Linked DNA regions of Homo sapiens. The protein of the gene in region 7 purifies or fractionates together with the protein of the main gene of each other region. This does not show direct contact. Each region holds a gene or a part of one and is shown on either strand. Other genes may lie near its edges.

Region 1 (4,725 bases), on a different chromosome or scaffold from region 7:
GGGGGGAGTAAACAAACTAGCCAATACCAGCTACTCTGGAAGCTGAGGCGGGAAGATCTTTTAAGCCCTGGAGTTTGAGGCCAGACTGGGCAACATAGCGAGATCCTGTCTCTAAAACATAAATAAATAACCAAGAACAACTGTCAAACATATTGAGAAAAGTGGAAGAGTCTGTAACAGGCAAGCTTCACTGTCATCCTCCAGAGTCTAGATGACTTCGTTGAAAGTGAAGATCCCAGAAAAGAAGGGATGGACATGCTATTTTCATGTTGCTGCAGATATACACTAAGCAACTGAGGAAGCTGAATTATATTCTACAGGTCATTTGGTAATATAATGAATGGACTGTACTTCCTAACAATTACATCCAAAAAATACAAGCTTTTCCTTCCAGTTTCCAATGAAAGCAGCAAGACTGAAATAATCAGTTACACACATGAGAAGCCAGGTATATCTGAAAGAGTGACTTTTAGTTCCCAGTTTTAATATGGTGACCCTACAATGGGAAACTGAAAGCAGCAATTTTTAGAATAGTATACACAAATTTTCTTCACTGCCATTATAAAGTGACTTTGTGTAAGTTACTTTTAGCCCTTCTGAGCCTCATCTGAAAAATAAGGATAATACTTACAACTAACAGATAAGGTAATAATGTACACTGAGTTCAGCGCCTGGAATACATAAATGCTCAACAAACGAAAATTCCCTCCTGTCTTAGCCTGATCGGCCTCCAGGGGCTATGCTCATGTTTTGGCCATAACCTGTGGCTCCTCCCTCAGGCCCCAGCTGTTTCCCTCAGTTCTAGTTGTTTCACTCCTGGTTTCTAAAAGGATCCTATCTATATTTAGAGGTAATGCTAGTACCAATTGTGGGCTCAAGGGCACCTGAGTACTGAGCAGTTTTCAATTGTTTTCCAGAGTTAATTGGTTTGGCTCCACAACTGGCTGTCTTGACTTCTACAAGTAAGAGTGCCACGTATGCACAGTACCTCAGCAGTATAAGACTAAACAGAAAACTAAGTGTGGTCGCAGGACAAATCCTAAGCAAAAAGATGTTTTTAGCCCTATTTATCAGGATCCCAGACCTTTGTTAAATCACAGGAGCAGTAAACCTTCAATGAACTCCACAGAGTAGGCTACAGCCTACTAACTTAATCTTCATCTAAATCACAGTTATCAGACCCAAGTTTCAACCAGTTCATGCTGCTTTACTATAACCAAGATGAGGGTGAAGCAGAAAGAGCAAACAGGTAGTGAAGATTTTAAAAAAGGCATCCGATACAGCTAGGTCTGAATAAAGCTTTGTTATTTACTAGCTCTGTGACCTTAGTAAATTATTTAACCTCTTAATTTACAAAATATGAAATAATTGTGAGGATTGAATGAGATAATACATACAAAAAAATCTTAGCACCTTGGCTAGCCCACTGAAAGAGGTCAATTAAAAAAGAGGCACATTAGGCTGCGGTGGCTCACGCCTGTAATCCCAACACTTTGGGAGGCCAAGTCAGATGGATCAAGAGGTCAAGAGTTCGAGACCAGCCTGGCCAAGATGGTGAAACCCCCGTCTCTACTAAAAATACAAAAATTAGCCAGGCGTGCTGGCGGGCACCTGTAATTCCAGCTACTTGGGAGGCTGGGGTCGCTTGAACCCGGGAGATGGAGGTTGCAGTGAGCCGAGATCACGCCACTGCACTCTAGCCTGGGCAACAGAGCAAGACTCCATCTCAAAAAAAAAAAAAAAAAAAAAAAGAGGCACATTGTCACTAATGAGAACACTGCACTCATTTCTTGCTTTGTTCAATTTTCATAACATCTAAGAAAAGTAACAATTTAAATCATTATTTTTGGACCTTTGTAAAGTAACCTAAATGCTACCATCCAAGACCTAGCTGAGAAATACAAACTGATTAATGTCCATAAATCTTAGATGAGTCAGCAAAACTTAATGCCCAACAAATAAAAGGCTTAACATGGACTACTTAGGAGCACACAATGGTCATTACAATTTCAAAATCGGCAATTTTCTATCTAGTACAATCACAAATTTGGTCTGGAAATCCAAATATTAAGGAAATGCAAACATCATAATCAATATTCCCAAATCACCTTAATTGAAACTGGAAGGTATGAGGCAGCCTATTTGAAGTTAACATCAAGAAATAATTTAAGGCAGAACCCCAACTCTCTCCCACAAACACAAAACCAGTAGCAGATGGCACAAGAACATTTCTCAGTGAGAAATTGCAATTCTAACAAAGTACAGGTAACTTAATTTTATCCATCACCTTTTGGTCAAACTGAAAACAAACAACCAAGCTTTTGGTTCTCTCCAAAACACTGAAATCTGCATTATCACTGACCTAACTTAAAGCAAGATATTTTTGGTGATCTGTCCTCTCCTGCTTCATTAACCGTAGGTAAATTAGGAACAGTAGCCTGCTAAACAGAGGGGAAGTAAATATCACAGGCATGTTTTATCAATAAAATGGACAAGCGATAATCAAATTATTTAAAGAACGGCTTGTACTCCTTAACAGAGGGACAAGCTTGAGAAAGATCCACTTTCTAAAAGAACCTAATCATTCTGGATGAATTATGAGAAAAATATCACTGTAGTCCAAAACTGACTGAATCTACCTTTCTGCTTTAATCCAAGTCCTAACCACATCTATTTTATGTCTCTGCGTCTGTTCGCCTGATTTTCCATTTCGTCTCCCCCTTCAATTCCAAGAACGCCCTTCTCTCCCTTATTTTCAAATCTCATTATTGCCCCCGAATGCTAAGGACCTCGCACAGCCACGGAGGTGACCTTACGCATCCCTACTGCATTCCTAATTCATTGTACTTCTCATCCCAAATGATCCTATTCTTTCGTTCTATCTCGCTCGTTGTTTCTTAAAATCCAATACCCCACACACGCTCACGCCAGAGTCCCCCCCACACTCCATTGTTTCCCCGGCCTATCCGTCTGGAAACTCCCCAACTCCGACGCGGGTGTTTCACCCGCCCCACAGACCCCAGGAACCTTCCACCCTCTGGGCACTTCGGGCCTCTAAGGGCTCACATCCCCCTCCTTCCCGTCCCCCCGCCCCCAACTACCCCCTCCCTCTTTTTCCTCCCTCAACCCGCTCCCCGCACCTCGGCGCCCTCTGAGCCCCCGCCAACCCCGCCACCCAGCACCCTTAGCCTCACCTAGCCCAGGCCCCCGCAATCGCCTCGTCGCCCCAGCTCCGGGCTCCGCGTCCCGGACGCTCCCGGGTCTGAGAAGAGGAAAGGAGATCCTCCACCTCCCCTTCTAGAGCCACCGCCGCCGTCGCCGCCGCGCTCCTCCCCCAGCTCTCTCAGAGCCGGACGCCGCCCCGCCCCCACCGCCGCCTCCCCACTTCTCTCCTGGGCCGGACTGCAGGATGCTGCCGGAGATCCAGCAGATCACCCCGACCCTCGCCCAGGCAGCGGCTCGCCCCGCCCCGGAGCCCTCTCGGGCGCGTGCGCGCCAGCCAGCCAGCCAGAGCTCAGGGCGCGTACTCGCGCCGGCGCGAATCCGGCGCGCCAAGCTCGAGGCTGTGGCAGCCAACGGGTGCGCGAGCGCGGCTCGAGCGGCGAGACGGCCCGCGCACCGGAGACCGAGAAGATCGGGGAGAGGCGCGGGGCGGCGAGAGGCGGGCTCCGACCAGTCGGGTTACCGCTCTTCTCGGGGCCCGGTCCCTCGCGTCTCGCACCGTCCGCAGGCTCGCGCGCCACCGGAGACTGGGAATTACCGGGGAAAGGAAGAGACTCGGGGAGAGGGTTGGGGACAAAGTAGATGGAAGGGGAAAACGGGTGGGACGCGAGCTCGCGTCCGCGTGCAGCACAGCTCGTACCCGGCGGCATCGGTTAGGGACCCGGCGCGCGCCGGGAACGGAGGGCCCGAGCTGAACTGACGGAAAGAGCCGAAACTCCCCCGGAGGTGGCCGAACGCGGGCGCCGCTAGGGGAGTCGAGCGCGGGGCTTTTGCTCAATGTCCGGGTTGGGAAGCTTTTTCTCTGGCCGCCGGGTACAGCGCCGCTCACTCTTCCGTACCGAGGACTTCACACCGCTTTCCCCTTCGCCTCCTTCCCGACCCAAGTTTTGTTCCAAAAGGCAATTTCAGAGTCGCCAACGACGGGAAACGCTGGGGCCTCCGGACCGCGCGGTCGCTCTGCCTCCTGAGAGAGCGCAGAGGCCGGTGGGGGCGCGGGAAGAATGACCTCGGGATCGTCAGTCGGGTTTCTGATCTACCCAGCTGTCAGCATAGCCCCTCTACGCGGCGGTGGTCGGTCCCGCCGCCCTTCGAATCTTTTCTGTTAAATACTCTCTTCGACGCCAGACTCCCAACCTCCCTGGTGCTGGAACTAACTAGTATTTGTGCACCCTTTCTGCATGCATAAAGCACTTACCTCAGTGTCGACTGGTCAGGGGTCTATTAAGAGGGGCCAGAGGGATTTAGACAGTCAGCATTGAAAATATTTATTAGAATCTGGGGCCGGGCGCGGTGGCTCACGTCTGTAATCCCAGCACTTCTGAGAGGCCGAGGCGGGCGGATGACTTGAGGTCAGGAGTTCGAGACCAGCCTGGCTAACATAGTGAAACCCCGTCTCTACAAAAAATACAAAAATTAGCCGGATGTGGTGGCACACGCCTGTAATCTCAGCTACTCGGGAGGCTGAGGCAGGAGAATAACCTGAACCCAGGAGTCGGAGGTTGC
Region 2 (4,123 bases), on a different chromosome or scaffold from region 7:
GTGGTCTCGGCTCACTGCAACCTCCACCTCCTGGGTTCAAGCGATTCTCCTGCCTCAGCCTCCTGAGAAGCTGGGACTACAGGTGTGTGCCACCACACCCGGCTAATTTTTGTATTTGTAGTACAGATGGAATTTCACCATGTTGGCCAGGCTGGTCTTGAACTCCTGACCTTGTGATCCACCCGCCTGTCCTCCCAAAGTGCTGGGATTATAGGCGTGAGCCACCGTGTCTGGCCTTTGTAATTGTATCTTTGTGAATGAGTGATTTGGTTCTGCCCTTTTTACTCCATATTTATACCAGCCTGGCTCTAGGAGAGTCAGAAGGCCTGCCCAAGGGTTTCTGCCCTCTCTGGGCCACTGGGCCAAAGCTGTAGCTTGCCCTCCGTGGGCTACCTGGGTCAGCCACTCCTGTGCTTAGGGCTTAATCACTAGTTCGCTGAGGCCTGAAGTTTAATCAACACCTTGAGGCTAAACAGCTCTGGTCCTTGTGATCTTCAGCCCATCCCTGCTTTTCTCTGGTCCTCCTCAGGAGCTTGTCAGGCCACGGGGGCTCCAGTGATGAGGCTGACCATCTTTCTTAAGAGGTGTTCTGGTAGCTTGTATTATGATTGGATTGCGTTGACTTCTCAAAGCCGAACTGCTGCTTACTAGTAGTACAGTAGACTCCCATTTGGCACTGGGCTGGTCTTTACCCAGGGGTCCCATAGATGGGTGTGTGGAGGGGAGAAGAGCCAGCATGCATCCTTGAGTTGTTAGTTCACCAAAGGATGTGACCCTGTGTTCCACGAGCGCTCGGTAATTCCTGGTTTGCACTGATGGCCTTTCTCTTTGGTAAAGTCAGGGCGCTGATTATCTTGTCGGAAGTATCCAGCTGGTCCTCTCTTGGGCTCCATCACTGTGCAAGTCTCTGCTCATAAGAACTCTTCAGTTCCCTTCTCCTGGGTTCACAGCCAAGGCAAAAAAGAGACTCCTTGGCCTCTTGGCAAACATACATCCCCTACCTGGCTGGTCCCCCTTCAGCTTCCCTCTCTAAGGAACAACTTGAACATAGAAACTCCAACCTCACCTGTAATCCCAGCACTCTGGGAGGCCAAGGTGGGCAGGTCATTTGAGGCCAGGAGTTCAAGACCAGCGTGGTCAACATGGCGAAACCCTGGCTCTACTAAAAATTAGCGGTGGTGGCGCATGCCTGTAATCCCAGCTACTTGGGAGGCTGAGGCACGAGAATCACTTGAACCAGGGAGGCAGAGGCTGCAGTGAGCCAGGGTCATGCCACTGCACTCCAGCTTGGGCAACAGAGAGACCCTGTCTCAAAAAAAGAAAAGGAACTCCAACTTCTGAAAGTAAACAACTTATGCAGTACATGATTCCTGGAGAGGATTTGGTCACCAACCTTCCCTCCTTCCTTCCAGGGAAAGCACACAGAGGGGCAGGGCAAGGGCCTCCAGTGCATTACTTCACCACTTCCCTGAGTAGGTCTTCTCAAGTCCTTGGAGCCTTCACTTTGTGATTTGTCACTGCCAGAGAGCAATGTTGGGATCATGAGCTGTGGGTCCTCAGTCTGACTTTAAAGAAACCTCACAAATTGTCTGCTCCTGATTTTCCTGACCATGTTTCCCACCAATCCTAACAAACCTCTGCTTCCCTCTCAGTCTCAACACTCTGGTGTTAATGCATTTGAACCTGCTGTGTATCTACTTCCTGTAATTTTTTGAGAATTATCTAGAATGGCTCAAATCCCACCTTTCCCATGAAGCCTTTCTGACCACTGCACATGCTCCTTCCCCTTGCTGGGCTGTGTGCTGCATGTGTGTACAGGGGGACATCACATTTGGGTGCAGCCTGTCGTGTGGGCGTTCCTTTTGACGCCCGTGTCTTGAGAGGGCTGTGTGGTGTTAGCAGGTTAGAGGCAGATGCTAAAGAGACAGGCCTGACCATTCACTGACCTAGCTTTCCTTTCCCTGAGCTTCAGTTTCCTCACCTCTTAAAGGGAAATAAAAATAGTATGAGTTGTGTGCAGCTTAACTGAGAGGATGCCTGTGGAGTGTTCAGGGTGATGGCAGTGGTTATTACTATTAATCTTTTTCTCCCCAGCCAGACTTGATGCCTGGACTTGGCCACAGCTTGCTTGGTAAACCCATTTACTGACATATTAATTGATCCCTCTTCTCTCACCAGGTACATGGCCACCTCTGGCCTAGACCACCAGCTGAAGATCTTTGACTTGCGAGGGACGTACCAGCCTCTGAGCACTCGGACCCTGCCCCATGGAGCAGGGCACCTGGCCTTCTCCCAGAGGGGACTGCTGGTGGCGGGAATGGGTGACGTTGTCAACATCTGGGCAGGGCAGGGCAAGGCCAGCCCACCCTCCCTTGAACAGCCCTACCTCACCCACCGGCTCTCAGGCCCTGTGCATGGCCTTCAGTTCTGCCCCTTTGAAGATGTGCTGGGGGTGGGGCACACTGGGGGCATCACCAGCATGCTGGTCCCTGGTGAGTGGGCCAGGGGATGGGGCTTGAAGTGAATGAACTCTGGGTGGAAGTTTGGGCCAGAGACATCCAGGAACTGGGGGCTTAGTTGGGCTGGAGCTGTTGGACTGAGGTTCTTCCTTATGGCTCCATGCTTCTCCCTCCCTCCCTTCAGGGGCCGGTGAGCCCAACTTCGATGGCCTGGAGAGTAATCCATACAGAAGCCGGAAGCAGCGCCAGGAGTGGGAGGTGAAGGCCCTGCTAGAGAAGGTGAGGCTCCCCTGCTGGAGAGGGTGAGATCCCCCCCATTGCTGGAGAGGGTCAGGTTCCCCCGTCCTGGAGAGGGTGAGGTTCCTCCTTCCTGGAGAAGGTCAGGTTCCCCCCTGCTGGAGAAGGTCAGGTTCCCCACTGCTGGAGAAGGTCAGGTTCCCCCCTGCTGGAGAAGGTAAGGTTTCCTCTTCCTGGAGAGGGTGAGATTCCCCTCTCCTGGACGGGGTCAGGTTTCCCTCTGCTGGAGAGGGTGAGATTCCCCCTGCTGGAGAGGGTCAGGTTTCCCTCTGCTGGAGAGGGTGAAATTCCCTCTCCTGGAGAGGGTCAGGTTCCCCCCTGCTGGAGAGGGTGAGATTGCCCCTGTTGGAGGTGAGGTTCCCCTGCTGCAGAGAGTGAGGCCCCTGCTGCTGGGGAAGGTGTGGTTTGGGGTTGGAGGTAGAGAAAGCTCTCCTGATGTCTCATGCTGGGGGTCTTGGGTAGAGGGGTTCAGCAGCCTCCCTGGCTTCTCTTTTTGGTGCTACCCTCCTGTGGCTCCTTGCTGAGTCCTGTCCCTCTGTGACACCCCCAGGTACCTGCAGAGCTTATTTGTCTGGACCCACGAGCCCTGGCCGAGGTGGATGTCATCTCCCTGGAGCAGGGAAAGAAGGAGCAGATAGAGAGGCTGGTATGGAGCAGGCCCCTGAATGCCCAGGCCCGTCTTCTCCCCCACATCCTCTCCCCACCATGGCTTGTCCCCAGAAGTGCGGCCAGCAGGTGGGTGCTGCCAGTTCCCTGACTCCGAGGCTGTAACAGATATCACTCCTGTCCCCTCCCTCAGGGCTATGACCCGCAGGCTAAGGCTCCCTTCCAGCCAAAGCCAAAGCAGAAGGGCCGCAGCTCCACGGCAAGCCTGGTGAAGAGGAAGAGGAAGGTCATGGATGAGGAACACAGGGTAAATGAGCATTGGCATGGGCCGGGCCTTCCACAGGCTGCACCCTCCTGCTTGTGCCTCTGCCCTTGTCAGCCTGCCACTTCTCACTCTGTGCCTGTGTCCTCCCCGTCTCCGGTCCCCAGGACAAGGTCCGGCAGAGCCTTCAGCAGCAGCATCATAAGGAGGCGAAGGCCAAGCCCACGGGGGCCCGGCCATCTGCCCTGGACAGATTTGTGCGCTGAGCCAGACTCCAGGGTTGCCTGGGAACAGTCTCTCCCCAAGATCACCTGTAGGGAAATGAGTGTTCCCTGGAACAAGGAGGTGGGGGCAGTGTGGCCCCTTCCCCAACTGGGGGTGGACAGCTGTCTCCTGGGGTGGGTTGGTATTAAAGAGGAAAGCGATTTTTTGGATAATGTGTCTGGATCATCTTGTGGACCTGTTCCCCTCCCCCTTGCCAAGCATGAGGCCATTCTAG
Region 3 (4,123 bases), on a different chromosome or scaffold from region 7:
GAGAATTGCTTGAACCCGGGAGGCAGAGGTTGCAGTGAGCCGAGAATATACCACTGCACTCCAGCCTGGGTGATGGAGCGAGCGCGACTGTATCAAAAAAAAAAAAAAGAAGTAAATCTTTGTTAATTATGAATAGGAATGATTTTAATGTTGCATTTTTGTAGGGATATATCATTCAGAAAAGAGAAATAAAACCAAGCTTGGAAGCAGATAAACCAGTTGAAGACATACTGACGTAAGCATATAGGCATGGGTCAATTTGCTTTGGATGTTTGTTAATGTTCTCGAATGTGATATAATAAATATGTTTTACAGGTATGAGGAATTTCATCCTTTCTTGTTTTCTCAACATTCACAATGTCCATATATAGAATTTGAATCATTTGACAAGGTGGGTTTTCCGTTCTGTTCCTTTACCAGTTAGTTAGCATGATATGAGCTGTTGATATCAACTTGCTTCTATTGAGAAACTGAAACTATACTTGCTTTACATTCACTGTGAATCTGGGCATTAAAGATCAGTGTCGTCACAGATACAGCTGTTGGAAATAATTGTTGCCACTTTATTTCAGGATGAAGGACCAGAGGTTTGAACTTCATTTGATTCTTGATACTGTTTAGCCATATAATACATTTACCGGAAATCTGTTCAAGTTCTTTGAGTGGTGTTATGAAACACAATGGAATCTAAAATTCTGTGTATGCAGCTGGGCTTGCTGGCTCATGCCTATAATCTCAGCATTTTGGGAGGCCAAGGCAGGCAGATCAGTTGAGGTCAGGAGTTCAAGACCAGTCTGGCCAACACAGTGAAACCCTGTCTCTGAAAAACTACAAAAATTAGCGGTGTGTGGTGGGGTGCACCTGTAGTCCCAGCTGTTTGAGAGGCTGAGGCAGGAGAATCACTTGAACCTCGGAGGTGGAAGTTGCAGTGAGCCTAGATCGCGCCACTGCAGTCCCGCCTGGGCAACAGAGTGAGACTCTGTCTCAAAAAAAAAGAAAAAAAAAATAAAATTCTGTGTATGCAAGTTGAAGTAGAGACTGTGCTTTTTTTTCCAACTAGTTGTTTGTTTTTTTAATAAGGCGGTGGATGAATTTTATTCCAAGATAGAAGGCCAGAAAATTGACTTAAAAGCTTTACAACAGGTATGTATTATTAAAAACACATATTAAACCAGCTAGTCTTTAGCGGCTTGATGGGTAGATGATATAGGAAAGGGTAGCCTTTCAGAAAGAGTGTAAGAAGTAGTATGGGAACTCTCTGACCTGCCTCTTTATTTATGATAAAGGTTTATGAAGAAGGTCCATGGGGGATTTTATTGTTGAAAAGTATGTCCTCATTTGTTTCATGAGTATTTCAGATATTCTGTAAAAAAAGGAAAATACGGTGGGAACGTGAGGCCTGTTATTTACACCTTAATGTGGTTTGCTCAGAACAACCCAAAGCTTCTCAAACATTGCTGTTAAGGAGATACTGTTTTAGGGAGATTTTAAATAGGCCAGAGGAGGGGATATTGTTTATCATTAAACTGTTTCTTTTTTAAATGGACTTTAAAGCCAAGTCTTAATATGTTTTCTGTGTATCATGACTCCAAAAGAAGTGATATACAGTATTTTCCCAGCACATTTGACCATGTTTTTAGAGCATTTGCTGCAGAACAGTTTCATAAATTGTTAATAGTCACTCTTGATTTGAAGGGGATTTGATTTTTTCAAAAACAGTCTTAAAATATGTGTGCAAAAATTTCAAATTATTTGAGGCTGGGCGCGGTGGCGCACGCCTGTAAATCCCAGCACTTTGGGAGGCCGAGGCGGGCAGATCACTTGAGGTCAGGAGTTCAAGAACAGCCTGGCCAGCATGGTGAAAACCTGTCTCTGCTGGAAATACAAAAATTAATGGGGTGTGGTATGGGTGTCCAGCTACTCAGGAGCCTGAGGCACAAAAATTGTTTGACCCTGGGAGGCGGAGGTTGCAATGAGCTGAGACTGTGCCACTGCACTCCAGCCTGGGTGACAGAGTGAGACTCTGCCTTAAAGAAAAAAAAATCAAATTGTTTGAATCCCTGTACCACTTCCTCTTCAGTTTTTAAAAATTAGTTAATCATAGCACAATTTCAAAGCAGGTAGGCCAGTCAGATGAATTATATACATCATGTAATTACCACATGGTGGCAGCACTTTGGCTAGTAAACTGAACCCCATGGTTTCATGGGTGTCAAAATACTAGTGATTTATTTTGGTAATTATTTTGTGGGTTTTAATAGTCATCATTCTTATCTAAATTTTAAAAAATATTTCATCTAGCATTTAAATACTCATTAATTGATGATATTACTAGTGTTAGAAATTTTGTCCCCCAATTGATAACCTTGAAATGTAAAGTATATATGATAAAATGCCAAATAACTACCATGAGCCTTTGTCTTATTAATTTAGGGGAAAAAGTTTCTGTAAAATACTGGAAATAGTTGTGAGAAAATCAAAAGTAGCAAAAAATACAAAGTCATTTGGTAATTTATGCTCTTTGGGAATTCATTCCCTGCCAGGTGCAGTGGCTCAGGCCTGTAATCCCAGCACTCTGGGAGGCCAAGGTGGGAGGATTGAGCTCAGACATTGGAGAGCAGCCTGGGCAACATAGCGGGACCCGGTCTCTATTATTTAAAAAAAAATAAAGAATTCGTTCTCCCAAACTTTACTTTTGTGCCATAGGAAAAAATGTCTTGATTTCTGCCTGTTTGAATAATGCCAAGGGTATTAGGGGTATATCTTATATACACAGTAACCTGTAATCAAAATACCTTTCTATATAAGGAGTGGGAGTTAGGAAGACAGGAGAAGTAATTTTGGGGCATGGAACGCATTGTAGTGGGATAGGCCTAGGGTGGTAGACTATGGGAACTTCAGCTAGCTAGATAACAGCATAGATGGGGTCAGGATAGTGAGTGTTGGGAAGTAAGAGAGGGATGTCATGAGGTAGGAGAAATCTAATTTTTAAAAAATCTGTTTTGCCAATAAAAGGAAAAGCAAGCATTGAAGAAATTAGATAATGTTCGAAAGGATCACGAAAACAGATTGGAAGCTCTTCAGCAGGCTCAGGTATTATGTTTGGCTTTCTCAGTGCTTTTTCAAAAATGTTAACTTTAACTGGCAATGTAGTAAATGTGTGTGGTTTGTTTTTTAAGGAAATAGACAAACTGAAAGGAGAGCTCATAGAAATGAACCTACAAATAGTTGACAGAGCCATTCAGGTAGTTCGAAGTGCTTTAGCTAACCAGATAGATTGGACAGAAATTGGGTTAATTGTGAAAGAAGCCCAGGCTCAAGGAGACCCTGTTGCAAGTGCAATCAAAGAATTAAAACTACAAACAAACCATGTTACAATGCTGCTAAGGTAAGTTTGACTCTTAGTCAAGCAGTTAATGCTTGTCTTTATTTTGTTATTTTAATTGTTCACTGTATTAAACATTTTTTCTTCATATTTTGAAATTCTCAAAGAAAGGGAAAAAACTAATTTAGATTAAAATAAATAATGAAACTTCCAGTACTGTAAACCATTTATAATTTTATTGAAGAAGAAAATTGAAAATAAAAGTGATGTCATTGACGTTAGTGAAATGCTATTGAATATTTTTAATAGAAATCCATACTTGTTATCAGAGGAGGAAGATGATGATGTTGATGGTGACGTCAATGTTGAGAAAAATGAAACTGAACCACCAAAAGGAAAAAAGAAAAAACAAAAGAATAAACAGCTGCAGAAGCCTCAGAAAAATAAGCCCTTACTTGTAGATGTTGATCTCAGCTTGTCAGCATATGCCAATGCCAAAAAGTAAGTCATTTAACTTTACATTTTAGGCCAAGTGTTATCTGCAATAAATTAAGGAATTAAGGACATTTTAAAAAATTTTAAATTTCACTTGTACATGCATACTTTTTTTGGGTGAAAATACTTTTTTAAATTTAGTTTTGTTAATTATACAGTTTGTTCTGATTTGTTCTGTATAATTTGAGAATTTGTCAAGTTAGAACTAAGTAGAAAACTGAAGAATAAATATTATACTTAAAATTTAAGAGAAATATGTTTTTCTAGGTATTATGATCACAAGAGATATGCTGCTAAGAAAAC
Region 4 (4,123 bases), on a different chromosome or scaffold from region 7:
CTTCAATTCTCTCTTGCTCCTTTCTCCCTCTACCTCCATCTCGTGGCACCCTGCCCACTCCTCCCCATTTCCCAGTTCCAGTGCCCATGGGTCCTCACTTCTTTCTCACAGGAGACAGGGACATATCGAGCATTGGTGACAGTGAGCTCCTCACTCCCTGGCCCTGCACGGCGAATCTCACACTCGCCCCCTTGACCCTTCCGGGTTCCAGTGGCCAGCAGGTCCCGGACAGTCTCATTGTAGATCTCTACGTAGCTTGCTACAAAGCTGTAGGTCCAGCCCTGACCACTCAGCTCCTGAGCCACAGAGAAGAGGTGCCGCAGGGCCCGAGGGATCAGCCCCTCCAACTGGGGGTCTCCCCCAGGCCCACCCTCCATTGTGAAGGTCTTGCCACTGCCTGTCTGGCCATAGGCAAAGATGCATACTGGATAGCCATCCAGGGCTGACTGGACAAGCATGGCAATCTCTTCAAACACTTCATCCTGTCCACTTCCTGGTGGGAATACCCGGTCAAAGGAAAAATCATGGCGAGTTGGGGGAGCTGGTGCCCCACTCAGGGTCCCACGCCGCTCGTCAGACCGGGAGAGGCTAAGGCGGGTTGGAGGATCAGAGGGCCCACCAGGGCCAGAGGGAAACAGGAGGAGGCCAGGGGGTGGAGTGGGCTCCCCCGGCAGGACAGGGCGGACCCGGCAGAATACACGGATGTTGCCCTTGAGTTCCTGCAGCTGGTTGTGCAGTCGCCGGCGCTCCATTTCTAGCCCATGAAGACGTTCTTCCCGCTCAGTCAGTAAGGCTGCCTGGGCCACAGTCTCCTGCCGCAGAGATGCCACCTCTGCTTGGCTGCTTGACAGGGCTGCTTCTGATGTCTGCAGCCTCCTCTGCCCAGAAGAGAACACAACATACACAGAGGGTAAGATGCAACCAAGAAGAAGAACAAACTGTGGGGCGTATGGAGTGGGTGGAAGTGAGGTCCCTGCTCAAAAGGACCTCAAAGTCTGGTAAACAAAGAAAGATGAGAAAATAAGGAATCATGGTACTAAGACAGGGAGTGCTATGGGTATGTCCAAGCACAAAGAGGAGCACAAGGAAGATGATATCTAGGGTGACACCCAGAAGTACAGGAGTGAACCAAGGAAGGATGTAGTATACAAAGAACATTCCAGAAAGAGGGAAGCACATATGCAGAATGCCCAGAAGTGAAAGTTGAGTCATTTAAGAGACTGCAAATAACTTAATCTAGTTGGTGCTCACCAGGAAGGAGTCAAGTGGACATGGGAGGAGGGAAAGAGAGTACCACAGGAATTTGTGATCAGGATGGGAACCCAAAGAAAGAGGGATGGAGGACTAAGAAAGACACAGATCTAAATGAGAGCTTTGCAAACAGTCAAGGGTAGGAAGAAGCGTGGCAGAAAGCAAGACAGTCAGGAGTGGGCTGGGGTGCAGACAGGTCAAGAGAGAGGTATCTTCAGCAGCACCTATACTGCTAAAGATAGGTGCTCAGGAGTTCTCAGCCCAGACTTGAGGGGTACCTGGAAGGGAGGGGAGGCATGACCTCTGCCAGGAAAGCGGGGCTGACATCTGGTGAAAATCTGGCCCTTACCTCCTTCTCCTCTAGTTGGGACATCAGTCCCCTCCGTTCTTCCTGCAATTCCACCTGTTTTTTCTGAAGCTCTTGCACCAAGCCCTCCTGCGTGCTCAGCCGCTCTTCCAGCTCCAGGACACAAGCACGCAAGTTCTTCAGCTCCTGTTGGCCCTGCTCAGCCTGGGCCTGTACCTTGGCTAAATGCCCCTCCAGTGTTGTGCGCTCTGTCCCCAGGGCCTTGACCTGCTGCTGGGCATCTCTGAGCTGGTCCTGAAGCTGCTGGTTCTCTTGGTCCAACGTTTGAGTCCTCTCACGGCACCGTTTTAGTTCTGCATTTAGGTCACATAACTGACCCTTTAAGTCCCAGGCTGGACGTTTGCTGGGTTTCTTCCCTCCTGCCATGGGAGGAACACCTGATGCTAAGATGAACACAGAAAGGACAAAGGTCAGTGAAGTCTAGGCTCTCTATCCCTCCTCCCTTCTAGCCTTTATGGGATCCACACCTGATGCTACATCTCCTTCCCCTTAGAGACCAAATGGATTTTTCTGGTCACTCACCATCTTCTCTTCCCTATCCCAGCCTCTCACCCAGTGGTTATGTTTGTCACTTACTGCCAGACTTCTGGACAGGAACAGCAGGAACTGGCTTCTGGTTCTTCAACCCTACAGAATTGAGGAGGTGACTTAGGAATTACAGGACCAGTGTCCCTCCACCTCCATCATTCTCCCTTTACACATACCCCAAATCCCTTCTCAGACCCAGCTCTTGAGCACAGTTACCTGTGGCAATAGCTGTGGAACACCGGGGTCCTGTCTTCTTGGAAACTTTTTGAGCTGCCCAGGAGATGGGAGAGAGCAAAGGTAGAATGATCATTCTTAAGATGGCATGTACACTTGCTAGGACAGGGGCAGAAGAAGTGCTTTTCTCAGAATTAGAAATAGGATAACTTCCTTCCCTTATCCCTAAGTCTGGCCAGCTCCTAATGATACCTCCCCTAGAACCAGAAATTACAGTCATCCCTCAGTATCCAAAAGGGGTTGATTCCAGCACCCCCCAAGAATACCAAAATCCAAGGATGCCCAAGTCCCTTACATAAATAGGTATATAGTATTAAATATAGTCTATGCACACGCTCCCATATACTTTATTTATTGATTGACTGAGACAGAGTTTCACTTGTTGTCCAGGCTGAAGTGCAATGGCATGATCTCAGCTCACAGCAAACTCTACCTCCAGGGTTCAAGCGATTCTCCCGCCTCAGCCTCCCGAGTAGCTGGGATTATAGGTATGCGCCACCACGCCCAACTAATTTTGTATTTTTAGTAAAGACGGGGTTTCACCATGTTGATTAGGCTGGCCTCAAACTCCTGACCTCTGGTGATCTGCCTGCCTTGGCCTCCATTTTGTTTTTTTTTTGAGATGGAGTTGCACTCTTCTCACCCAGGCTGGAATGCAATGGCGCGATCTCAGCTCACTACAACCTCCACCTCCAGGGTTCAAGCAATTCTTCTGCCTCAGCCTCCTGAGTAGCTGGGATTACAGGCAAGCGCCACCACGCCTGGCTAATTTTTTTTTTTTTGTATTTTTAGTAGAGACAGGTTTTCAGCATGTTGGCCAGGCTGGTCTCAAACTCCTGACCTCAGGTGATCTGCCTGCCTCAGCCTCCCAAAGTGCTGGGATTACAGGCGTGAGCCACCACATCCAGCCGCATATACTTTAAATCATCTTTAGATTACTTATAATATCTAACACAATGTAAATGCTATGTTAATACAGTCATGTGCCCATAATGACATTTCGGTCAATGACAGACTGCATATACAACAGTAGCCCCGTAACATTATAATGGAGCTAAAAATTCCTATTGCCTAGTGACATTATAGCCATGGTAATGTCATAGCATTCCTCACCTGTTTGTGGTGATTCTGATATAAACGAACCTAATGCACTGCCAGTTGTATAAAAGTATAACACATATAATTACATATAGTACATAATACCTAATAATGATAATGACTATGTTACTAGTTTATATATTTACCGTACTGTACTTTTTATTGTTATTTTAGGGTATACTCCTTCTATTTGCAAAAACAGTTAACTATAAAACAGCCTCAGGCATGTCATTCAAAAGGCATTCCAGGCCAGGCACTGTGGCTCACGCCTGTAATCCCAGCACTTTGGGAGGCCGAGGTGGGCAGATCAAGGGGTCAGGAGATTGAGACCATCCTGGCTAACACGGTGAAACCCCGTCTCTCCTAAAAATACAAAAACAAAATTAACCAGGCGTGGTGGCGGGCACCTGTAGTCCCAGCTACTCCGGAGGCTGAGGCAGGAGAATGGTGTGAACCCAGGAGACGGAGCTTGCAGTGAGCCGAGATCATGCCACTGCACTCTAGCCTGGGCGACAGTGCGAGACTCCGTCTCAAAAAAAAAAAAAAAGGCAATCCAGAAGAAAGCATTGTTATCACAGGAAGTCACATCTCCATGTGTGTTACTGCCCCTGAAGATCTTCCAGTGAGACAAGATGTGGAGGTGAA
Region 5 (3,177 bases), on a different chromosome or scaffold from region 7:
ACGATGGACTTCCTCTCCTCTAGCTGCAGGAACACCTTGGCCTCCTGAGATGCCTCTACTGTGGCCTAGTCTCAGCTACAGGAGCATGTGTGGGCTGTGGTCAGGCAACAGGAAGAGGAAGAAAGGGAGAGAGATTTTGGGATGTGGGTACCTGACCCAGTATGGAAATCCCTGTATATTCTTAAACTTTTTCTGAGTCACTCTGTGAAAATTGTGGGACTTTGGCAGTAGAAAGCAAGAGAATTAGAATGCAGCCATACAAGGTTTTTCATTGTTTTAAGAACTCCCTAGCCCCCAAATCAACAAACCATGTCGGGTAAATATAAATGCACACTGCTGATATGGCAGTAAAGCCAAATGTACTTGATATATAAAAACAGTGGGCCCACCCTATCAGCAGGTTCTACATTCGTGAATTCATCAAACTACAGATAGAAAATATTCAAAAAAATAAATGGATGGTTCTGTCTCTATGGAACATGTGCAGACTCTCTTTCTTGCCCTTATTCCCTAAACAATACATTATAACAACTATTTACATTGTATTAGGTGTTAGAAGTGATCTACAGATGAATTAAAGTATATGGGAAGATGTGTGTAGGGAACAGGCAAATAGCACGCCATTTAATATAAGGGACTTGGGCATCCACGGATTTTGGTATCTGTGAGGGATTGAGGGAGTTGGTCCTGGATCCAACCCCCTCAGATACTGACCACTGTAAGGTTCATACTTCTAAGTTTAAAATGTAACTATGTGTGAGTGAATGTGGATAGCATTTGCTAAGAAAAGCCCTGTACTTACTTGTGATATATAAAATATTCACAAGAAACTAGTACCACTGGTAGACATTGGGGAAGGTAACTGGAGTGGAAAGGAAGAAAGTAGAGTTTTCATGATTAAATATTATGTACCTTTTAAATTTGTATTAGGTATTATTTGTACTTATGTATTATTCATAAATAAATACATTCCATTTAAAAAATAAATAATGAGCTTTTATTATTCTCAACAACAGAGAAGACTCCAGCCTGATGTCTATGGGACCTGAGTCCACACTGTGGAGGGCACAAGCTGTGGGAGGGCCTGGAAGACACGCCTCAGAGATTCTCCCAGTCCTGCCACCCTGTGGGAGACACTTCAAAGGAATCGTAAACTCATGTGACCAGCAGGGAGGACAACGATGAAGAAACTTTCCTGCCTAAAATCAGCTGCTGTCCAGAGCTAGCACCTGGAAGGAGACACTCCCTCTCCTGGGGTCACATCTTCACTGCAAGGCGGGTGGGAGCTCACTGCTGTGACCCACATATACTCCTCTCTCGGCGTCTCTATCCTGCTGCTTTCTCTGACTGCATCTTCCTCTGTTCCTTGGTCAGTGTTTGAGAAGAGAATGTTGAACAAGTCACATCCTTGTCACTCTGAGTCAGAACCCTCATTTGACTTGGAAGATTTGTGCTTCCGTTTTTTCTTCTTTTTCTTTTCTTTCTTCCTTTTCTTATGCTTTTCTTTCTTCTTCTTTTTCTTGTGTTTCTCTTTACCTTCAGAGGAACTGGAGCTGCTCCTATCTTCATCTGAGGTAGAATCCTCCAGTAACTGTTTTAACTGCTGTATCCTAAACATTCAAAATTGATCAAAGAACAGTGAGTTTTAGCTTTAACTTACAACAGTTGCTTAGATAAATATGTCATTCAAAAGCAGTATAGGATGATGAATAACCATGTCACAAAGACAGTATTTTTATTTTTACCTGTTTTCTCATTCTTCTCCACCTGAATGCCTACTTTACGTGACTGAAACCAGTGTACAAGCCACTTTGTATTCTTTTTATTGTCCTAGACATTTCTGCATGTTTCCACAGTCCTTACAATTGTAATTTCTAACAGACGCATACTTTACTAAACCATTCCCCTACTGCTCAATTTCTTAATCTACATCTTTAACAGTTATAATGCCACCAATTTGAAAAAACAAACCCTCCAATTTTTTCCACCTCTCTCTAATCATGTCTAATTTTTTTCTTTTTTTTTTAGAGACAGGGTCTTCCTCTGTCACCTAGGCTGGAGTGCAGTGGTGCAATCATGGCTTACTGCAGCCTCAACCTACTGGGGTCAAGTAGATCCTCCCACCTCATCCTCCCGAGTGGCTGGAACTACAGGTGCGTGCTGCCATACTTGGCTACTTTTTATATTTTTTTGTAAAGATGGGGTTTTGCTGTATGGCCCAGGCTGGTCTCAAACGCCTGGACTTCAGCGATCCGCTGGCCTCGGCCTCCCAAAGTGTTAGGATTACAGGTGTGAGCCACTGAGCCTGGCCTAAGTATAATTTTTAACAAAAGCTCACATCCCTAAAGACTCTGGAGAAGATAAACTGAATCACATGAAAATATCAATTATACTGTACAAGTAGACAGCACAACATGGGTTGCCAACATCAACTGCAGTGGCCAGAGAGCTGGACCAAGCCCATGGCTTTAAGTTAACCCAAGGAGGAGGAGGCTGGCCTGCTCATTCCCCAACACTGGCCTTTTCAGCCATGACTCCTGCACTCCACATATTTTCACAATTGAAGTACCATGTTTACTGCACCATTCCTCTAACACTAGAGTGGTTTTCTCCAACTTTATATAATTTTAAAACTTTAAGGGGATATTGTTATCATCAGGACGACCTCACCTTACGTCCTTTTCATGTCGTTTATTGTCTCGTATGATGTCATACATGGGATCTTCATGTGCCTTAAGGGTCAGAGAAGGTTAAGGTTTGGTTAGGCTTCATGGATCACAAGTTAAATACAATGAAATGCCTATGTTATGAAAACCAGTTTATTTTTTTTTTTACTGTTTGATGTAGCTGCATGTTCAACATGTTCTAGGTCACATCACTGAAAACTCATTAAGGCTAAAAAATGGATTTTCCAATTAGAAAAATACAGGAAATGGCTACTCTCAGCACACTGTCTTTGGGGTAGCCCTGCTCTGCAGGAGCAATCACAGAGCTATAACACTGCCACCTCAAAAACAAAGAAAAATACAGGGAATAACTGTCATCTAAAGAAAAAATATACGGACACTTTAATCTTACAGTTTAAAGACATGTACTCTTTAAAGACCGGGAAATTAAATCCCTGATTTCAGTCATGAAACATGACTTTTTTACACAGTAAATTTTAAAAAGTGCGGT
Region 6 (4,123 bases), on a different chromosome or scaffold from region 7:
TTATTTTTTGAGAAGGAGTCTCACTCTGTCACCCAGACTGGAGTGCAGTGGCGCAATCTCGGCTCACTGCAACCTCCTCCTCCCAGATTCAAGCGATTGTCCTGCTTCAGCCTCCCGAGTACCTGGGACTACAGGCGCCTACCACCACGCCCGGCTAATTTTTAGTAGAGACATGGTTTCACCATGTTGGCCAGGCTGGTCTCGAACTCCTGACCTCAAATGATCTGTCCACCTCGGCCTCCCAAAGTACTAGGATTATAGGTGTGAGCCACCATGCCTGGCGGTTTTATTTTTTATTTGTTGAGACAGACTATCCCCCTGTCACCCATGCTAGAGTGCAGTGGTGCAATTATGGTTCACTGCAGCCTCAACCTCCCAGGATCGATTCATCCACCTGCCTCAGCCTCCCAAGTAGTAGCTGGGACTGCAGGCACATGCCACCACGCCTTGGCTAATTTTTGTATTTTTTGTAGAGATGGGGGCCTCCCTTTGCTGCCCAAGCTGGTCTTGCACTCCTGGACTCAAGCAGTCCCACCTCAGCCTCCCAAAGTGCTGGGACTACAGGCATGAGCCACTGTGCCTAACCAAGAATCCTTTAAAAGAAATCTTACACAAAAGTCCAGTCCCATGACAGGTGAAAGCTGAGTTGCTGCGGCTGAAGTAGGGGTAGGGCACCCAGAGCCCCACCTGCCCACTTCCTGAGTGCCCCAATCGAGCCTCTCTCTTCCCTTAAGTTAGCAGCTGCAGCCAAATGAAGGGCAAAGCTTGCTGTATGCCAAAACCTTACCTATAATAATAACAACAGGAATACCTACAATAACCATGGCACATGTCCATATTACTCAGTACTTGTGATATGTGTGTGCCATGTATTTACTATGTTTATTTATTTATTTATATATATATTTTTTGAGATGGAGTCTCGCTCTGTCACCCAGGCTGGAATACAGTAGTCCGATCTCGCCTCACTGCATCCTCTGCCTCCTGGGTTCAATCAATTCTCTTGCCTCAGCCTCCCGAATTGCTGGGATTACAGGTGCCCACCACCATGCCTGACTAATTTTTGTATTTTTAGAAGAGACAGGGTTTCACCATGTTGGCCAGGCTGGTTTCGAACTCCTGACCTCAAGTGATCCACCTGCCTCAGCCTCCCAAAGTGCTGGGATTACAGGCATGAGCCACTGCGCCCGGCCAGGAATGTATTTGCTATGTAAAGATTCATACTTTGCAGATATTATCTTATTTCATCCATACAACCATGACCTTCAAAGGTAGGTCAATGCTATATCATCATTTCCTTCTCTTTTTTTGTGTGTTTGTTTTGAGACAGGGTCTCACTCTGTCTCCCAGGCTGGTGTACAGTGGTGCAATCACAGCTCACTGAAACCTCCATCTCCCTGGGCTCAGGTGATCCTCCCATCTCAGTCCCCTGAGTAGCTGGGACTACAGGCATGCACTACCATGCCCAGCTAATTTTGTACCATGCCCAGATGAAGTCTCACTGTGTTGCTCAGGCTGGTTTTAAACTCCCGAGCTCAAGAAATCCACCTGCTTCAGCCTCCCAAAGTGCTGGGTTTACAATGAGCTACCATGCCAAGCCCCATTTCCATTTTATACTTGAAAAATTAAGTAATTTTCCTTGGGTTACAAGCTAGTCCGTGGCAGAGCTGGCTGGAACTTTATCTTAATTCTCTCTGATTCTAAAACTTCCAAAATGGTGATGTGGCTCCTTTATGGATCTGGAAGCCTGCAGTCTTGCTGATGTCAAACTTGTTATATTTAAATAAACTAAGATTTTATTCATCAACATATAGACCTGTCTCCCATGCTATTATATTCTAGTAATTGTGTTAATAATACTAAGTAAAATTAAGATATGTTCTGCCAATTTCTGTCAGAGAACAGCCAGAATTCACTGGTTACTAATAAAAAAGGGATCCAGGTCTATAAGTGCCTCTGTCATCTTTTAGATCTTTACCTCCCTCTCATTCCCTTTTTTCTAGTTAGCTGCTATCACCAAATTAAGGGCAAAAGGCCAGGTTCTTACAAAAACAAACCCAAACAGCATTAAGAAGAAACAAAAGGACCCTCAGGACATCCTGGAGGTGAAGGAACGTGTAGAAAAAAACACCATGTTTTCTTCTCAAGGTACTGCAGTTTCACAGTTAACAGTGGGAAAGAGAAACTGTTTCTAAGGGAAATATGTTCTAAACCCAAACCAGCACCCAGATATCAAGCAATTACTTCCATTTCCTCCTATATAGAATACCTAAATAGAATTTCTATGGGTGGAACTGATTTTTTTTTTTTTTTTCATGGAGTCTTGCTCTGTTGCCAGGCTAGAGTGCAGTGGCGCAGTCTTGGCTCGCTACAGCCTCTGCCTCCTGGGTTCAAGCGATCCTCCTGCCTCAGCCTCACGAGTAAGTGGGACTACAAGCGCGCGCCACCACGCCCAGCTAATTTTTTGTATTTTTAGTATAGATGGGGTTTCACCATGTTGGCCAGGATGGCCTCGATCTCTTGACCTCATGATCCGCCCGCCTTGACCTCCCAAAGTGCTGGGATTACAGACGTGAGCTGGAACTGATTTTTTTATAATTACATTAAATTGGAATGAAATTGGGCACAATTTGAATACTTGGGAATAGGATTGCTCATTGGATCTTTGTACATATATATATTAGCATAAAGATTTACTTTGACAGAACTAGAATTCCTTTGTTTTAAATTGCCATATCTTTATTTTTAAAACTCTGAAGTTGGCAATATCATTTTAACATAATTGTCAACATTATTTACACTGTTGTTATCTGTTACTATCGTCAGCTGCCTATTTGAAGGTGAAAAAGAGATTCTATTTAGTGGTAAAATCTGCCACCACCCCACATTCTAGGCTCAGCTTCTTGGCTCACCTCTGAGAGCTTTTCCCTGCTGGGACCAGCGGGGGTAGGTCAAGTTTGAAGGGCTGGTAGGCAGAGGAGGAGGGAGTGGGAGGGAGTAGAGTTGATGAGGCGCACTGGCTTTCTGAAATTTCTTGGTCGCTGCTAATGTTTGTTCCTTGTGCCCTAGCTGAGGATGAATTGGAGCCTGCCAGGAAAAAAAGGAGAGAACAACTTGCCTATCTGGAATCTGAGGAATTTCAGAAAATCCTAAAAGCAAAATCAAAACACACAGGCATCCTGAAAGAGGTAAGAGCCCAAAAGCTCAAGGATGGTGTTGATGTCCGATGTCCTTCAAAGCCAAGGTGCTAGCTGTAGGACCAAGAATGTGTTGTTTGTTTTATTTTGTTTTTCTGAGACAGAGTCTCAGTCTGTGGCCCAGGCTGAAGTGCAGTGGCGCCATCTCGGCTCAATGCAAGCTCCGCCTCCCAGGTTCAAGCGATTCTCCTGCCTCAGCCTCCCAAGTAGCTGGGATTACAGGTGCCTGCCACCACACGAAGCAAATTTTTGTGTTTTTAGTAGGGACAGAGTTTCACCGTGTTGGCCAGGCTGATCTCTAACTCCTGACCTCAAGTGATCCTCCAGCCTTGGCCTCCCAAAGTGCTGGGATTACAGGCGTGAGCCACCATGCCCGTACCCAGCCAAGAATCTGTTTTTTACATAAATCTAAAAGTAGGTATATGTCAGTTTGTTTGAGTTTGCTTTGAAGAACAGGAGAATTTCTAATAAATTTTAGCTTTGTCCTTGTCTCTTTACTGAAGAATATCATTTGATTTAACATGACTTAAATAGATATCAATATTATAAAAATGTTTGCATTTGGTTATGGCTGTGAAATTATGTTTAAATGGCTCTACACTGCTGCTATTTTCTGCCTTGCAATATGCAAAAAGAGTTTTCCCATTCCAGTATTTTTATATTGGCATTTCAAATGCTCTAAATCAGTAGTTAACCCCATCACACCCAAGGACCCTTTTTAATAACAAGTATTTTGTATTGCTTCCTTATCTTGAAATAAAATTCATAGATAATATGAATTACCTATACTAGTCATTTCGAAAAAAATCAATAAATATCCTAATGCAAATAAGAAAAAATGAAAAGATTTGTGATAAAGATACAGATTTCATTATGGATTCATAAATGCAGAGGCAGAACTAGCTTAGGGGAAATAATCAAGTCAT
Region 7 (4,123 bases):
TCCCTTGCCAAACGGGTTAGTAAGGCTTGCATGGAAAGCAAGTGTTGGATAATCCTGGGAGAGGACAGCAACCCACCGTTTCTAGAAGGAGAGATGAAAACATTTTGGTAAACTGCAGTACATTTATTTACATTATGTGGAAGAATCAGAGCTTGAATTACAGAACTGTTTCAAATATACTGTTGTCTAAGGAAAATGTTAGCTATAATTCTTTGAAATGTTTTTTCCAAGTATAACAGTTAATGCTTTGTTCTTCTGTCTTATAAATACAAAACAATATTCCAAAAAATGTCTTCATTGTTACTAAATGCAATTAATGGAGCATAATGTGAAGCAGGCAGTGGCCTCAGAAGCCGTCTCCTGGTGCCTCTGCCCACTATCAATGAGCACACTTTCGTGTTTCCAATGAGAGCACTCCCATTACTACAATCTCAGCCGGACAACACTTTAGCCTAAAAGCCCTACAACTGACTTACTAACAGATGTCTTAATAGTCTATTCTGGTTTAGTAGTTGTACTTACTGTTGCCCAGGTTGGAACAAGGTCACATTTGTTAAGTACAAAAATGAGGTGTTTCCAAGGTTTTTCCTTCTTCAGGTAAGTTTCAATGTGAGGGGAACGAGTACCCATTGGATCTCTAGCATCAAGAACTTGAACTACAACATCTGATGAATCTATCACCTGAAAATTCAGAAAGGCAAAAATGGTTTGCTACAGTACAAATAAAAGAGGGATGACATTTAAGGGAGTCTGGGAAAAATAAAATAATAATATTTAGAGACAACTTCAAAACAGTCTCTGGGCAGAGTTCGTTGTGGCTAATCTCAAGGCCCAGTGATCAGAATTCAAAAGGTTTTTCATCCTGTGGCTTTTGAAACCTGCTGAATTTAAAACAGAAAAACTAGCTTAGATGAAACTCAACTTATTTCCTAACTACTATGGATTATTGAACTAAATCATTTACTTCTTAGACTTCTTTAAGTTTGTAATATTATCTTTAAGTTTGTAATATTATAGGTTTTGTGTATTTCACAAAAAACTACAAAGTTTAGCTTGCCTTCACGGTACTAGTTTCCTATCATGTTACTATTTAATTACGTGATTATACTTGAAAATTTTTCTTCTGAAGGTTATTATTAGTGCATGGACATAAACCTCTGCCGGTTAAAGATCACTGGATCAGAAATCAAGATATACAAAGCCTCCTTCACTAACAAGCTAGTCGAGCTAGGTACAGCATTAAACCTTTCTAGACAGGAGTCCTCATCGATAAAAGGAGAGGGGTGGACTAAATAACTTAAAATGTTGCATGTGACTTTAACTAGGCATGATAAATTTGGCAGGAAATCTTAAAAAATACTGACAGGTAATAAATATGTGATTGTATAATAAAAGATAGCTGTTACTCTTATACAAGTACTTTAAAAAATGCAGTTACCTAGATCAATGGTAGTACGCCTTCCGAGTTTCTTTGTAGGAGGAAGAGGATGGAACAGGCAGTGGTGCCTGTACTCTGCGCAACAGAGCTTCAATATATCAAAATTAGTTTTCTTCTACAAAATCATGAAAGCCCAAGGAACCACTCAATGGGAGAGAATTTAGGAGTCTTACCTTGTAGAGCTCACCCCATATTCTTTTGGACTGTCCCTTTTTATAGATCTCTTCTTGAGCTTCATTTCTAAATAAGAAAGCACCCCAAATGAGCAACTGAAGCACCATCAAGACTAAAAGGATGCTTTAGGGTAAAGTCAATGTACCAAAAAAAACAGTATCAAACCCAGTTGGAGATGGACCAGAAACAAACTGAATTTAAAAAGTGTGCCCAAATGTCTGTCAACAAATAAATGGATAAACACAATGTGGCACATATATACACAAGATAGCATTCAACTTTAAAAAAGAAGGAAATTCCAGCTGGCTCAGTGGCTCACACCTGTAATTCCAGCACTTTGGGAGGCCAAGGAGGGCAGACTGCTTGAGCCCAGGAGTTCGAGACCAGCCTGGGCAACATGGCAAAACCCCATCTCCACAAAAAATACAAAAATTAGCTGGGCATAGTGGTGCATGCCTGTAATCCCAGCTACTGGGGAGACTGGGGTGGGAGAACTCCTTGAGCCCAGGAGGTTGAGGCTGCAGTGAGCCATGAGCAGGCTACTGCTCCAGCCTGGGTGACAGAGCAAGACCCTGTCTCAAAAAATAATTAATTAAAAAAAAAAAAAAAAGAAGAAGAAAATTCTGACACCTGCTACAACACGAATGAACCTTGAAGACATTATGCTAAGTGAAATAAGCCAGACACAAAAGGACAAATACTGTATGATTCCACTTATATTAGGCACCTAAACCAGTCAAATTCATGAGAGAGAAAGTAGAATGTTGTTACCAGGGGCTGGGGGAGAGGGGAAACGGACCGTTAGTGTTAAATGGGTACAGGGTTTCAGTTTGGGATGATGAAAAAGTTCTGGAGATGGATAGCTGCAATGATTGCACAACAATGTAAATGAACTTAGTATCACTAAACTGTACACTTGAAAATGGTTAGAAGAGCTGGGCACAGTGGCTCACACTTGTAATCCCAGCACTTTGGGAGGCTGAGGCAGTGGATCATAAGGCCAGGAGTTCGAGACCAGCCTGACCAACATGGTGAAACCCTGTCTCTACTAAAAATACAAAAAAATTAGCCAGACGTGGTGGCGGGCACCTGTAATCCCAGCCACTCGGGAGGCTGAGGCTGGAGAATCGCTTGAACCCGGGAGGCAGAGATTGCAGTGAGCCGAGATCACATCAAATGGTTAGAAGAGTACTTTTTTTTTTTTTTTTTTGAGACGGAGTCTCGCTCTGTCGCCCAGGCTGGAATGAGTGGTGCGATCTTGGCTCACTGCAACCTCCGCCTCCCGGGTTTAAGCGATTCCCCAGCCTCAGCCTCCCAAGTAGCTGGTACTACAGGTGTGCGCCCCTGCGTCCAGCTAATTTGTGTATTTTTAGTAGGGACTGGGTTTCACCATGTTGGTCAGGCTGGTCTCAAACTACTGACCTCAGGTGATCCGCCCGCCTCAGCCTCCCAAAGTGCTAGCATTACAGGTGTGAGCCACTGCGTCTGGCCACATTTTTTGTTACATATATTTTACCACAATAAAACATTAAACTAAAAAAAAGCATGACTGAATTAGGCAGTATGTCACAGAGAATTACAAAATGGAATTGGCAGGACCTGAATCACAACCTATACTCCATAGCTCCCATATACAGCAGTATTTTTCTGATAAGGTTTAGAATCTGTTTATTTACTAGTCTCTAGGACATTTACCCAAGGTAAACAAAAATAGTTTTGTCTTTACTGCATTACCTACTATACCTGTTGCGGAAGGAAAAATTCAAATCGGCAGAATACAAAGCCAACGAAAGTTCAAATAATTCTAAGAACAAATAAATGAACTCACTGCCTCTTTTTGCTTGGCCTCAAATGGCTTGACATTTTATCTCTAGGTGGCCCAATGCTTGAAGATGGGCTGACAATAGCAATGAGGTAATAACACTGATGCAGTCAAAGGACAATGCCTCTTCACTAAGACAGCAAAACCTCCACTTCATTTAAGAGACATGAGATGGACGAGAATGAGAGCTTTCTAGCACTGCCCAAGGGAAATGAAATTAAACCCTTTCTCAAGAGCAATGTGGCAGCTGCCTATCAAAAAGCATGCATACCTTTTGATATCATGCTTTGCTCCGTAAGAACTTATCTTTGGGGAATAATTAAGGATGAAAAAGATGCGGTCACATTGATGCTTCATCCTTGTGTTGTTCACCATAAGGAAAAACTATACACAGTATAAATGTCCAACAATGAGACTGGCCATAACAAACAAAATACTACTCTGACAATAAATATTATATTATTGTTGATTATGTACTGACATAGAAATATATTCCTAATAATCACAGCTTACTGCAGCCTCAAATTCCTGGGCTCCAGTGATCCTCCCACCTCAGCCTTCTGAGTAGCTGGGACTCTATGCCCAGCCAATTTTTTATTTTTTGTAGAGACAAGGTCTCACTATGTTGCCCAGGCTGGTCTCAAACTCCTGTGCTCAAGCGATCTTCCTGCCTCAGCCTCCCAAAAAAC

What was found.
Region 1: the proteins of GNL2 (region 7) and SPATS2 purify together in Homo sapiens (affinity purification with mass spectrometry; one large-scale study listed by BioGRID and IntAct). This does not show direct contact.
Region 2: the proteins of GNL2 (region 7) and WDR46 purify together in Homo sapiens (affinity purification with mass spectrometry; 3 studies listed by BioGRID and IntAct, with this or other methods). This does not show direct contact.
Region 3: the proteins of GNL2 (region 7) and NEMF purify together in Homo sapiens (affinity purification with mass spectrometry; one large-scale study listed by BioGRID and IntAct). This does not show direct contact.
Region 4: the proteins of GNL2 (region 7) and KIFC1 purify together in Homo sapiens (affinity purification with mass spectrometry, with the first as the bait; one large-scale study listed by BioGRID). This does not show direct contact.
Region 5: the proteins of GNL2 (region 7) and RP9 purify together in Homo sapiens (affinity purification with mass spectrometry; one large-scale study listed by BioGRID and IntAct). This does not show direct contact.
Region 6: the proteins of GNL2 (region 7) and MCM10 purify together in Homo sapiens (affinity purification with mass spectrometry; one large-scale study listed by BioGRID and IntAct). This does not show direct contact.

The regions. Positions count from the first base shown.
Region 1 is NC_000012.12:49,366,057-49,370,781, reverse strand, and holds the start of SPATS2 (spermatogenesis-associated serine-rich protein 2), read right to left. Parts: upstream 3,321-4,725; 5' UTR 3,195-3,320; intron 1-3,194.
Region 2 is NC_000006.12:33,279,043-33,283,165, reverse strand, and holds the end of WDR46 (WD repeat-containing protein 46), read left to right. Parts: intron 1-2,178; coding exon 2,179-2,492; intron 2,493-2,643; coding exon 2,644-2,738; intron 2,739-3,306; coding exon 3,307-3,402; intron 3,403-3,555; coding exon 3,556-3,669; intron 3,670-3,791; coding exon 3,792-3,890; 3' UTR 3,891-4,058; downstream 4,059-4,123. UniProt on the Homo sapiens protein: Scaffold component of the nucleolar structure. Required for localization of DDX21 and NCL to the granular compartment of the nucleolus. Part of the small subunit (SSU) processome, first precursor of the small eukaryotic ribosomal subunit.
Region 3 is NC_000014.9:49,828,319-49,832,441, reverse strand, and holds part of NEMF (ribosome quality control complex subunit NEMF), read left to right. Parts: intron 1-164; coding exon 165-235; intron 236-315; coding exon 316-391; intron 392-1,080; coding exon 1,081-1,143; intron 1,144-3,015; coding exon 3,016-3,093; intron 3,094-3,179; coding exon 3,180-3,388; intron 3,389-3,634; coding exon 3,635-3,826; intron 3,827-4,087; coding exon 4,088-4,123. UniProt on the Homo sapiens protein: Key component of the ribosome quality control complex (RQC), a ribosome-associated complex that mediates the extraction of incompletely synthesized nascent chains from stalled ribosomes as well as their ubiquitin-mediated proteasomal degradation.
Region 4 is NC_000006.12:33,401,607-33,405,729, reverse strand, and holds part of KIFC1 (kinesin-like protein KIFC1), read right to left. Parts: intron 2,417-4,123; coding exon 2,363-2,416; intron 2,246-2,362; coding exon 2,195-2,245; intron 2,002-2,194; coding exon 1,601-2,001; intron 879-1,600; coding exon 99-878; intron 1-98. UniProt on the Homo sapiens protein: Minus end-directed microtubule-dependent motor required for bipolar spindle formation. May contribute to movement of early endocytic vesicles. Regulates cilium formation and structure.
Region 5 is NC_000007.14:33,093,823-33,096,999, forward strand, and holds the end of RP9 (retinitis pigmentosa 9 protein), read right to left. Parts: intron 2,733-3,177; coding exon 2,671-2,732; intron 1,611-2,670; coding exon 1,412-1,610; 3' UTR 975-1,411; downstream 1-974. UniProt on the Homo sapiens protein: Is thought to be a target protein for the PIM1 kinase. May play some roles in B-cell proliferation in association with PIM1.
Region 6 is NC_000010.11:13,195,620-13,199,742, forward strand, and holds part of MCM10 (protein MCM10 homolog), read left to right. Parts: intron 1-2,003; coding exon 2,004-2,148; intron 2,149-3,069; coding exon 3,070-3,188; intron 3,189-4,123. UniProt on the Homo sapiens protein: Acts as a replication initiation factor that brings together the MCM2-7 helicase and the DNA polymerase alpha/primase complex in order to initiate DNA replication. Additionally, plays a role in preventing DNA damage during replication.
Region 7 is NC_000001.11:37,582,256-37,586,378, forward strand, and holds part of GNL2 (nucleolar GTP-binding protein 2), read right to left. Parts: intron 1,679-4,123; coding exon 1,612-1,678; intron 682-1,611; coding exon 523-681; intron 82-522; coding exon 1-81. UniProt on the Homo sapiens protein: GTPase that associates with pre-60S ribosomal subunits in the nucleolus and is required for their nuclear export and maturation.